Homo sapiens: one gene and its partners. The protein of the gene in region 2 purifies or fractionates together with the protein of the main gene of each other region. This does not show direct contact. Each region holds a gene or a part of one and is shown on either strand. Other genes may lie near its edges. The genes, in order: AKAP8, ASH1L and NUP155.

Region 1 (3,720 bases), on a different chromosome or scaffold from region 2:
TACTGGAAACGGGTCTGTCTGCCTGACCCGATGTGGGCTGCAGTGGGGATGGGGGGCAGCCTTGGGTGTCCACCACAGTCGAAGTTTGTAGGGAAGGAGAAACATGAGAGAAGAGGCCCCCAGCCCATCTTCTGTGCCCTCCTCGGCCAGTGCATTTCCCTGAAGTGTTTTCTCTGGGGCTTCCTTTTGTCCAGTTCCTTCAGTCGCCTGCCCTGGGCTGTGCTGTGGGCCTCTGTGGTGGGGATACTGGCAGCTGCACTGCACATTGCTTCGTGCCTGCGAGTGTGTGACAGCAGACACCTGCGGGGTCGGGAGCACCCAGGCCCACTGGGTCTTTGAGAGGCGGGCGCCCTTCAGCAGGTCTCTTCATGTCCAATGCAGGAGACCAGAGGGTCTGCAGCAACAGCAGAGCAGGCTTAAATCCCTCATGGCAGAGCGGCCTGAGGTGCCGCGGCCTGGAGCTCACCCTGAAGCCACTCGTTTCTTTACCTGTCCTGTGGGTCTTTCCGTAGCTGGTTACCCCAAGGATCATAGGCTGGCTCCTCAGTGGCCCTGCTCCCATCCATTCTGAAGGCCCTTGGCTTAGATGTTCCTCCTGTTCAGGCTTTGCCAGCCCTCTGCGGTCCTCCCCCCCGCGACCCGCAGCAGTCCTGTCCATAGCACGGGGCGCCCCGAGCGCTTAGCGGCACAATGCTAAAGCAAAGGTGACATGTCTGTTGCGCGCAGGTCCTGCTACCTACCCGGGATGACTTTGCTATTAAACAGCAGTCATAGTTTCAGGCAGTGACCTCTTGCCAAAAATCCCACACGCCCTTTTGAGAGGCTTCTGAGCAGCGCACGCCGGTCGCCATCTTCGTGGGACAGTCTCGGGACTGGCATCAGGGGTAGGGGTTACAGTTCAGATGCTTCTCCAACCTTTTTTCAGCGTCCGTCCCTGGCCTCATGCTGGGATGATGGCCGCGTGGCTCTCCGAGGAGCTCCTCTGCTGGCCCCGGGGGACGGACGGGAGGACCAATTGGTCTCTTCCCAAATTTTTTTCTAGGATTGCTTCCCACGCAGCCCTGGGAAAGCCCTAGATTGACGGTTTTTGTGAGTGGAAGATAGAGGTCGGGCCAGCAAGGACTGTCAGACCTGCTGAGGCCCTAGTTCAGACGGGGCCGCCAGGACGCTCGTCACAGTCCACCTAGAGGTGGGATAGAGGGCGGCGGAGCAGCTGCTTCACTTCCTGAGGCCTTCAGCTGCCGCCTCTTCATCCGGGGAGAATTGGCTTCTCCTGTGATATTGGGAGAAGACCCCATCGCAGGGCATGAGATTGGACAAGCAGAATGGGGAGGACAGAGGGAGCAGGGGGCTGTGGTGCACATGGGGTGGGCAGGCTGTGTCCCTAGCCCATCCTGGCCGCCTCAGGCCATGTGGGGAGTTTGGTGACTACTCCGGGCTCTCACTCCAGGCCCGTGTCCACCAGGAGTCTCTGACAGTGCCTTGGGGCATCCTGGACCCTGCCGCGTGGTGCAGGCAGTGGCAGGGCACAGGGTGCGGTGGCCAAGCTGCAGCCCCCCGACCAGGCCCTGGAGCTCAGCTCCTTTGCAGGCCACTCAGAGCGTCTCGAAGGGACTTGTCTGTTACAGGAGAGAAGGAGGACGAGGACGAGGATGTGAAGAAGAGAAGGGAAAAGCAAAGGAGAAGAGACAGGACGCGGGACCGTGCAGCCGACAGGTGAGGCGCGGGCACACGACCCCACAGGAGGAGGTGGACTCGTGCGGTGGAGGCGCTGCCGAGCTCACCTGTCCTCGCTCCACAATGCTGGGGGCCTGGTGGCCTGACTCCTCTGGCCAAACCAGTGGGAGGCAAAACAGTAAACAATTGGGAGTGCAGAAAAGACCATCACTCGTGCTCCCAGCACACGAGCTACCTGTCTTCTAGGATGGCTGGGACGTTGCTTTGGTGGTTAGGTTTCTGTTCTTGCTTTAGAGGATTGGTGTTTGACTCCTGTGTCTCTATTCCTCTGGAATCCCAGCCTTGCTGGTGGGTCTGTGTGGTCCATAACTGCTCAGCAGCGGGCTCTGTTACTCTCCTGCAGGCCTGAGGGGCATCCCTGCCCCCTAGCCTGGTGTCTGGCATCTCAGACACTGTCCTGTGTTCACCTTATCCAAATCCAGACCACCCCTGGAGTTTGACACAGCTAGGAGACAGGTAGAGAGATGATCCTACCATCAAGATTTTGTCCCACAATAGAAAAGGATTGCAAAAATGTTGAGCCCAAAGGATGTCATTGTGAGCACACCATGTGCCTGCCTCTCCCTGCCAGGAGTTAAGTGGCTTCTGACTAGAAACTGAAATCACCAGTGATCATGTGATGCTGGGGAATCCTTGACCTTAAGGTTCACATGGGACAGTGATTTTCTTTTTGTTTGTTTGTTTCTGAGATGGAGTCTTGCTCTGTCGCCCAGGCTGGAGTGCAATAGCATAATCTCGGCTCACTATAACCTCTGCCTCCTAGGTTCAAGCGGTTCTCCTGCCTCAGCCTCCCGAGTAGCTGGGATTACAGGCGCCTGACACCACGCCTGGCTAATTTTTGTATTTTTAGTAGAGGTCGGGATTCACCGTGTTGGCAAGGCTGGTCTTAAACTCCTGATCTTGTGATCTGCCCGCCTTGGCCTCCCAAAGTGCTGGTATTACAAGCGTGAGCCACTGCGCCCAGTCTGGGCAGTGATTGTCGTGTTCAAAGAAATGCTTAGTAAAAGGGGCCAGATGCCGTGGCTCACACATGTAATTCCAGCACTTTGGAAGGCTGAGCTGGCGGATCGCTTGAGGCCGGGAGTTCAAGACCAGCCTGGTCAATATGGTGAAACCCATCTCTACTAAAATTACAAAAATTAGCCAGGCATGGTGGCAGGTGCCTGTAATCTCAGCTACTCGGGAGGCTGAGGCAGGAGAATCACTTAAACTGGGGAGGTGGACTTTGTAGTGAGCCAAGGTTGCACCACTGCACTCCAGCCTGGGCGACAGAGCAAGACTCTGTCTCAAAAAGAAAAAGAAACGGGCTGGGGGCAGTGGCTCACGCCTGTAATCCCACCACTTTGGGAGGCCAAGGCAGGCGGATCACCTGAGGTTGGGAGTTCGAGACCAGCCTGACCAACATGGAGAAACCCAGTCTCTACTAAAAATACAAAATTCGTCCGGCATGGTGGCGCATGCCTGTATTCCCCGCTGCTCGGGAGGCTGAGGCAGGAGAATTGCTTGAACCCAGGAGGTGGAGGTTGCAGTGAGCCAAGATCACACCACTGCATTCCAGCCTGGGCAACAAGAGCGAAACTCTATCTCAAATAAAAACTCCATCTCAGTGAGCCGAGATTGTGCTACTGCACTCCAGCGTGGGCGACGGAGCAAGACTCCATCTCAGGAACAAAAAAAAAAAAAGAAAATCACTGTTCCATGTGAACCTTAAATCAAGGATTCAAAAAAAAAAGAGAGAAATGCTTAGCAAAACGAAGCCAGGAACCAAACGCAGAACTGTTTCTTCTTAAGTGGTACAGGAACATTGAAACCCTTGTTATTTTAAACAGATAAATGGATAGAGTAGATGACTTTTCATGTCACATGGAAACTGAGATGACATTTTCTTTTTAATTATTTTTAAACTTAAATAATCTAATAAAGAGATAGGGGTCTTTCTCTGTTGCTTGGGCTGTTGAACTAGCCTCAAGAGATCTTCCTGCG
Region 2 (4,050 bases):
AATTATTTGTGGACTTTAATCGTCCGTATTTCTGCTGCATTCAATTATCAAATATCAGTCAAGTGTTTTGAGAAACAAATATTCAGTAGCCACAGAAACCTAACAGGCCTATGTTTGCTTTGTTTTATTAACTCCTTGGAGGGACAGAACACTACCAATTACACCCACAAACGTTATCGACATCAACAGAACTGTAAATGACAACACGGCAATATTCTGCACTTTCCCTATGCCTAGGAGCTAATTCCACTTTACATATATTATCTTATTATTTCACACATTAACCCTGGAGGCATGTTTGGAGTTGCCTAATTTTTATGTACACTTTTTGATAAGGAACTAACAAAAATAACTTGCTGAAGGAAGAAAAGGGAGACTAAGTCCAGAACTGAATGAAAAGCACATGGTTTCTTCATCCTCCATCACCAGGCTGTCTAACGAGGCTGAAGAAGTACCATCCATGAGTAAGTGCGTCAAGGGCAAACAAACATCATCGCATATGGACAGTGGTGTGAAATTCGAGAAATCCGAGGAGGGTTAACAACAACAAAAAGCACACCACCACGCCGATCTTCCTCGGGTCCCAGGTTGGCAACTCAACGCCCGGGAGGAATCCCCCCGGAGGCGCGCCGGTCCTACTGGCCTCACTCCCTACCTCCTGGAGGTCCGGAGTCCCGCTCCTTTCCCTCAGCGGTACAATACCCGTGTCGGTCCATTCCCTCACCGTGAGTCGAGGACTAGTTCTCCTGACTAGGCGACCGGCACACACCGCCTGCGACCAGCTCCACAGCAGCGGTCCTGCTACTGCGAAGTAGGCTCAGGTCAACCGGCAGGAAACGACTCAACGCGCAGCCGCCGCGGCCTCCAACCACCGGTGGGCAGAGGGGCGCTAGGCAGTCCTCGATCCGCTCGCCGCGATCCGGCGGAGGAGGAGGAGCAGAGGGAGGCGAGCCGCAGCGCTGCGGCGAGGAGCCCAGGGAGGTAGGTTGTCGTGGGGCTCGGTCCGCCATTCTGGCAATTCCAGTCAAACGGCAAGCCCCGACCCGCTCGGCCCGTCCCTTCCTCTCCTGCCCCTGCAGCCGACAGGAATGGAACAGTCCCGCGGGGGGGATTGTGGGAGGCGCACGCGCGAGGGGTGGAGGGTGGTAGGGGGGGCTGGCGGCGGCGGCGGCGGCCGTGGCGGCGGTTGGTGGCCGTGGGGGCGGGGAAGGGGGGGGAGGAGAGAAGAGGAGGTGGAGGAGGAGGAGGAGGAGGCTTGGGCTTGCGCCGTTGAAGGTACGCGTGAGGGCCTGCGCCGGCGCCGGCTTGACAGGGCCTGAGGGGTAGTGAGGGACTGGACGAGGGGGTTCCTGTGGGTGAGCGCGTACGGGCTGGCTGGCGCGCGGGGCGGCCGAAGGTGGTGGTTGGTGGGAGCAGCCAGCGACGAGCCCGTAGACACTCGTACGCGTGCGGGCGGGCGTGCGCGCTACGCGGACGGAGTCGGGCGGAGCGGGGGACGGTGGGAAAGAACGCAAGGAGGAAGGAGTGGAAGGTTGAGGGGGGCGCTAGGCGCCCTTCGCTCCCTCCCTCTGGAGGAGCTGCCGCCGCCACCGCCGCCACTCTGCTGCTGCCGCCGCCGCCGCCGCCGCTCCCGCCGCCATTTTGGGTTCGCTTTGCGGAGGGGAGACGATCCCAGTCTCGGTTGCGGGACCCGCCTCCCCTCAGTTTGCCCCCTTTAGCCTTCCACCTTTCCCTTCTCCTCTCTCGCATTTCCGCCAGTCAGCTTACCCGCTGGCCGCCTCCTGACAAGCGGGAGGGATCCGCCGTGGACCCAGGGAAGCGGAGGAGCCTGGCGGCCACCCCCTCTTCCCCACTTCCCTGCACTCTCATCGCTCTCGGCCTCGGCCTCGGCCTCCGACACGGTGAGTAGAACGATTTGGGCCGGCATTCGGGCCTAAGCACTCTCTCAGCGATTGAATCCTGGGCTTTCTGGGAGCCACTGTCATCTCCCGGACCTGGATCTCTGAGAGAGCAGTGGTGAAGATGGGGGAGGGGAGAGCAGGGAGGGGGATCCTGAGCCTACCGGGAAGTCCCTCCAGGCGGGGTGAAGGGGTGTCCCTGACAGGCAGACTCCCGGAGGGGGCTGGGAAGTAAGCGAGTGGAGGCGGAGTCGGCTGTGCCCCTGACAGGTTAGTTTGTGTTTGTAGGCATGATCGGAGCCTCCCCCATAGTCCAGTTTGTGTGTGTTTAATTAAGGGATAAGAGTGGTCGAGGACACGATCTTGAGAGGGGATTTTACCTGTGTGACAAGGTCTGTGGTGTCCCTGCCGCGTTGAACGGTATGTGGGAACGACAGGATGATCTCAGTGTTGTAAGTTTAATAAATGTCACTGGTTAGTTTGTACATGGAAAGAGATGTTTTTGGTCTAGCAGACAGATGGTCTGTTGGTGTGTAGCGGCTGTGTTGGTGTGTGTATGTGAGGATGGCAAGTGTTTCCGTAAGAGTTTGCCTTTATTTGTGTAAGTGTAATGGAGTTCCCCTTATAAGTTAGCTTATTTCTTGAATAAATGTTGGGAGGTTCCTTGCAGGTTGATATGTGTGTGTATTTTAGGGATTGGGAGCCCCTAGTTACTTGTTGGGAAAGAGCGGCAATGGTAGTGTTCTGTACAGCATGTGTCTGTGAGGTCAGGGAGGGGAGAAACTTGGCATAGCCAGTTGTGGTCTTAAGAATAGTTTGTGCCTTTGGTTAGAGTGAGTTGTGTAAATGTGAAGGGCCAAAATATCTTTAACAGAATCATTACTACAAAGTTGTAAAGAATGGGTGGCCTTATTTGTTGTCGCGGGTTTATAGTAATAGTTTACAATACAATAAGAAAGCTCTTTCAGTTTTTTTGTGATACTGAATCTCTGTGAAAATGGTAGGATGCTTTCTTCCATTTTACAAAATAGGAAATTTAGGCATAAGGAGAGAACTTCTCCAAGGCCGCATGTTAAATTGGTGACAAAGTTGGAACTGTAACTCCCATATTTTCACTACTACTGCAGCAGTATATTCAGCATACCATGGTGCCTCAGGAAGTCTTTGTCGGCAAATCTGAGTATGCTGGAAAGATAGGAGCACATAAGACTGGTTGGCTTGTATTTGGGGGAGACCGATTGTGTCAGATATGTATGTGGAACGTAGCTGTCCTTGCCGAGTCTGACCTGTATGAAATGCATATCCATGACTATATTATTTTGGATTTATGGAGGAAGCAGAGCATTTCTGACACTTGAGGTTGTATGTGTGAGGGAGAGAAGGCTTTCACAGCTTAACTTGTACCAGAGCAGCTGCATGGGTGCTGACAGCTTAACTTGAAATCTGTGGGAGGAAGGATCCTTTTTCATTCATTCAACAAATATTTGTTGACTGCCTGTTCAATAAATGGTCCATGCCTTGGCGTGAGGATAATCAAGGTGTCTCTGTAAATAGCCTGGGTACAACGTGAGGGGAGTTGTTTTGACAGTGGTGGGTATTAAGTTGAGGGAGGCGGTGTGGAATTAAAACCAGAGAACTGTTTTTGGGTTCTGGTAATTGTTAATACATGTGCCTGTGGATGTTGGAACTTCTTGGCTGGGCTGAAGGAATCCTTTGAAAGACTCATTTCATATAGTAAGAATCCCCTCTATGAATATGAAGAAAGAATGCATAAACTAAGCCACTTAACCGTATTCTTCTGAAAAATGGGATGTTTCTTGATAGGCTAGATGAGTGGTTCTTAAAATTTTTTGGGGTCACTTATCCTTTTGAGAATCTGATGAAAGACACTGGGCCCTCAAGTTAGAAGATGAGCATAAGCACAATCACATGATTTATATATATGATTTTAGGAACTTAAAATGTAATAAAATAGAGCCAATTTATATTTAGGTCTCATTTGAAAACCTTTCATTTTCATTGTTCGGGTGTGTGGATGTTAGTATGAGTTTAAGATGAAAGAGTCTATGGTATTTGAACATGTTGACAGGAGAACTTTAGGGTCCATGTTTTTTATTCTTTTTATCATCTGCAAACTTATTTCTGCAGTATT
Region 3 (3,720 bases), on a different chromosome or scaffold from region 2:
GCAGGGAGCTGTGATTGCGCCGCTGCACTCCAGCCTGGGCAACAGAGTGAGACCCTGTCTCAAAAAAAAAAAAAAAAAAAAAAAAAAAAGGCCTGGCGCTGTGCCTCATGCCTGTAATCCTAGCAATTTGGGACCTGGAAGTGGGGTGGATCACTTGAGCTTGAGTTTGAGACCAGCCTGAGTGAGCAACATGGCAAAACCCTGTCTCTACAAAAAGTGGCTGGGTGCGGTGGCTCACGCCCATAATCCCAGCACTTTGGGAGGCTGAGGTGGCAGATCACGAGGTTAGGAGTTCAAGACCAGCCTGACCAACGTGGTAAAACCCCGTCTCTACTAAAAATACAAAAATTAGCTGGGTGTGGTGGCTCATGGCTGTAATCCCAGTTATTCAGGAGGCTGAGGCAGGACAATCGCTTGAACCAGGGAGGCGGAAGTTGCAGTGAGCCGAGATCGCGCCACTGTACTCCAGCCAGGGCAATAGAGGGAGACTCTTTCTCAAAAGAAATGGGAGGCCCAGGTGGGCGGATCACGAGGTCAGGAGATGAGACCATCCTGGCTAACATGGTGAAACCCCCATCTCTACTAAAAATACAAAATAATTAGCCGGGCGTGGTGGCGGGCGCCTATAGTCCCAGCTACTCCGGAGGCTGAGACAGGAGAATGGTGTGAACCCGGGAGGCGGAGCTTGCAGTGAGCCGAGATCGCGCCACTGCATTCCAGCCTGGGCGACAGAGTGAGACTCCGTCTCAAAAAAAAAAAAAAAGGAAAAAGAAAAATGCTGTTTGGCTGGGCTCGGTGGTTTACTCCTGTAATCTCAGCAATTTGGGAGGCAAAGGTGAGTGGATCACTTGAGGTCAGGAGTTTGAGACTAGCCTGGCCATCATGGCGAAATCCTGTCTCTACTAAAAATACAAAAATTAGCCGGGTGTGGTGGCACACTCCTGTAGTCCTGGCATCTCGGGAGGCTGAGGCAGGAGAATCTCTTGAACCTGGGAGGCAGAGGTTGCAGTGAGCCGCCATTGCACTACAGCCTGGGCGACAGAGCGAGAGCCCATCCCAAAAAAAAACCCCAAAAACAAAAAAAAAATTAGCTAGGCATGGTGTCATGACACTGTAGTCCTAGCTACTCACGAGGCTGTGGTGGAAGATTGCTTGAGCCCAAGAGGCTGAGGTTGCCCTGAGCTGTGATTGCACCACTGCATTCCAGCCAAGGCGACAGAGTGAAACCCCGTCTCAGGAAAAAAAAAAAAAGAGAAAAAGAGTTCGGCCGGGTGCAGTGGCTCACATCTGTAATCCCAGCACTTTGGGAGGCCAAGGCAGGCGGATTACGAGGTCAAGAGATTGAGACCGGCCGGGCACGGTGGCTCACGCCTGTAATCCCAGCACTTTGGGAGGCCGAAGCGGGCAGATCACGAGGTCGGGAGATCGAGACCATCCTGGCTAACACGGTGACACCCCGTCTCTACTAAAAATAAAAAAATTAGCCTGGCGTGGCAACAGGCGCCTGTAGTCCCAGCTACTTGGGAGGCTGAGACAGAAGAATGGCCTGAACCCAGGTGGTGGAGCTTGCAGTGAGCTGAGATCAGGCCACTGCACTCCAGCCTGTGAGACTCCGTCTCAAAAAAAAAAAAAAAAAGATTGAGACTATCCTGGCCAACATGGTGAAACCTTGTCTCTATTAAAACTACAAAAATTAGCTGGGCGTGGTGGCTCATGCCTGTAATCCCAGCTACCCGGGAGTCTGAGGCAGGAGAATCCCTTGAACCAGGGAATTGGAGGTTGCAGTGAGCTGAGATCGCGCCAATGCACTCTAGCTTGGCGTCAGAGCGAGACTCCGTCTCAAAAAATAAAAATAAAAAGATAATTGGGGAAGGAGTGAACAATGATAAAAATGAAACATGATTGGGGATATTACTGGTTATTAAGTTGGATAATCAGTACATGGGTATTTATTGTATTTTTCTTATATATATTTTAAAAATTTCCATAATACACTTCAAGATTGTTTTATATGTCAGTTTTCCTTAACATCTTTGTACTCTATAGAACCTGAGAAAGTGCCTGAGATAAGTAGGTCATCAGTCAGGTCTAAATAACGCCTTGTCCGGGAGCAAGGGTAGGCTGAGTAGACCAGCCCACTCCTGTCCTTAGTGATGGAGTCTTAGAGCAAGAGAAAGGTTGCCCATGAGAACACTTTATAGAGCAGTCTTTGTTTTTATCCCCCCAATAAGATACTGCTTGTGGGGTATTATTTGTATTTGTCTTAGTGGTCTTGGGGATAAATCTAAAGGGAAAAGTCATGGGTTGTTTTAATCTATAAATGTTTAGCTGGTAAAGGCAGTATTTTCCCCCAGTCATTATTTTGTTTGCTTATAGTCATTTTACCTTTGAGCCCCAAAGCAGTTTTATATTTTCCCATTTCAGATTAGCAAAATGATAGAAAAACACTAAATTATTATTTTTAAATTTTTTTATTTTTAATTTTGTGTGTACATAGTAGGCGTCTGTGTGTGTGTGTGTGTGTGTGTGTGTGTGTGTGTGTGTGTATATATATATATATTTTTTTTTTTTTTTTTTTTTTTTTTCTCCCCGAGACAGAGTCTTGCTCTGTCACCCTGGCTGGAGTGCAGTGGCACGATCTTGGCTCACTGCTGCCTCCGCCTCCCAGGTTCAAGCAGTTCTCCTGCCTCAGCCTCCCAAGTAGCTGGGATTATAGGTGCTTGCTACTGTGCCTGGCTAATTTTTTTGTATTTTTAGTGGAGACAGGGTTTCACCATTTTGGCCAGGCTGGTCTTGAACTCCTGACCTTGTGATCGGCTTGCCTCTGCCTCCCAAAGTGCTGGGATTACAGGCGTGAGCTACCGCGCCCAACGGTGTATATATTTATGTGGTGCATGAGATGTTTTGATACAGGCATGCAATGTGAAATGATCACATCAGGGAAAATGGGGTATCTATCCTCTCAAGCATTTATCCTTTGTGTTACAAACAATACAATTACATGCTTTCATTTTGTTTATTTATTTATTTATTTATTTTTGAGACAGAGTCTTGCCCTGTCGCTCAGGCTGGAATGCAATGACACAATCTCAGCTCACTGCAACTTCCGCCTCCCGGGTTCAAGCAGTTCTGCCTCAGCCTCCGCAGTAGCTGGGATTATAGGCGCACGCCACCAGGCAGGCTAATTTTTTGTGTCTTTAGTAGAGATGGAGTTTCACCATGTTGGCCAGGCTAGTCTCAAACTCCTGACCTCATGATCCTCCTACCTCGGCCTCCCAAAGTGCTAGGATTACAGGCTTGAGCCACTGCGCCCAGCCACTTTTATTTTAAAATAACACTAAATTATCAAATTTAAACATTTCCAGCTGGGCACGGTGGCTCACACCTGTAATCCTAGCCTTTTGGGAGGCCGAGGCGGGCGGATCATGAGGTCAGGAGATCAAGACCAGCCTGGCTAACACGGTGAAACCCCGTTTCTACTAAAAATACAAAAAATTAGCCGGGTGTGGTGGCGGACGCCTGTAGTCTCAGCTACTTGGGAGACTGAGGCAGGAGAATGGCGTGAACCCGGGAGGTGGAGCTTGCAGTGAGCCGAGATTGTGCCACTGCACTCCAGCCTGGGCGACAGTGCGAGACTCTATCTCAAAAAAAAAAAAAATAAAATAAAATAAACATTTCCTTTGTTACAGAGCAAGTTTTTTGAGATATGACTTTCCCTTT

What was found.
Region 1: the proteins of ASH1L (region 2) and AKAP8 purify together in Homo sapiens (affinity purification with western blotting, with the first as the bait; one study listed by BioGRID). This does not show direct contact.
Region 3: the proteins of ASH1L (region 2) and NUP155 purify together in Homo sapiens (affinity purification with mass spectrometry, with the first as the bait; one large-scale study listed by BioGRID). This does not show direct contact.

Annotation. Positions count from the first base shown.
Region 1 is NC_000019.10:15,366,231-15,369,950, reverse strand, and holds part of AKAP8 (A-kinase anchor protein 8), read left to right. Parts: intron 1-1,628; coding exon 1,629-1,716; intron 1,717-3,720. UniProt on the Homo sapiens protein: Anchoring protein that mediates the subcellular compartmentation of cAMP-dependent protein kinase (PKA type II).
Region 2 is NC_000001.11:155,560,004-155,564,053, reverse strand, and holds the start of ASH1L (histone-lysine N-methyltransferase ASH1L), read left to right. Parts: upstream 1-1,250; 5' UTR 1,251-1,901; exon of another isoform or gene 1,902-2,012; intron 2,013-4,050. UniProt on the Homo sapiens protein: Histone methyltransferase specifically trimethylating 'Lys-36' of histone H3 forming H3K36me3. Also monomethylates 'Lys-9' of histone H3 (H3K9me1) in vitro. The physiological significance of the H3K9me1 activity is unclear.
Region 3 is NC_000005.10:37,364,579-37,368,298, reverse strand, and holds part of NUP155 (nuclear pore complex protein Nup155), read left to right. Parts: intron 1-3,720.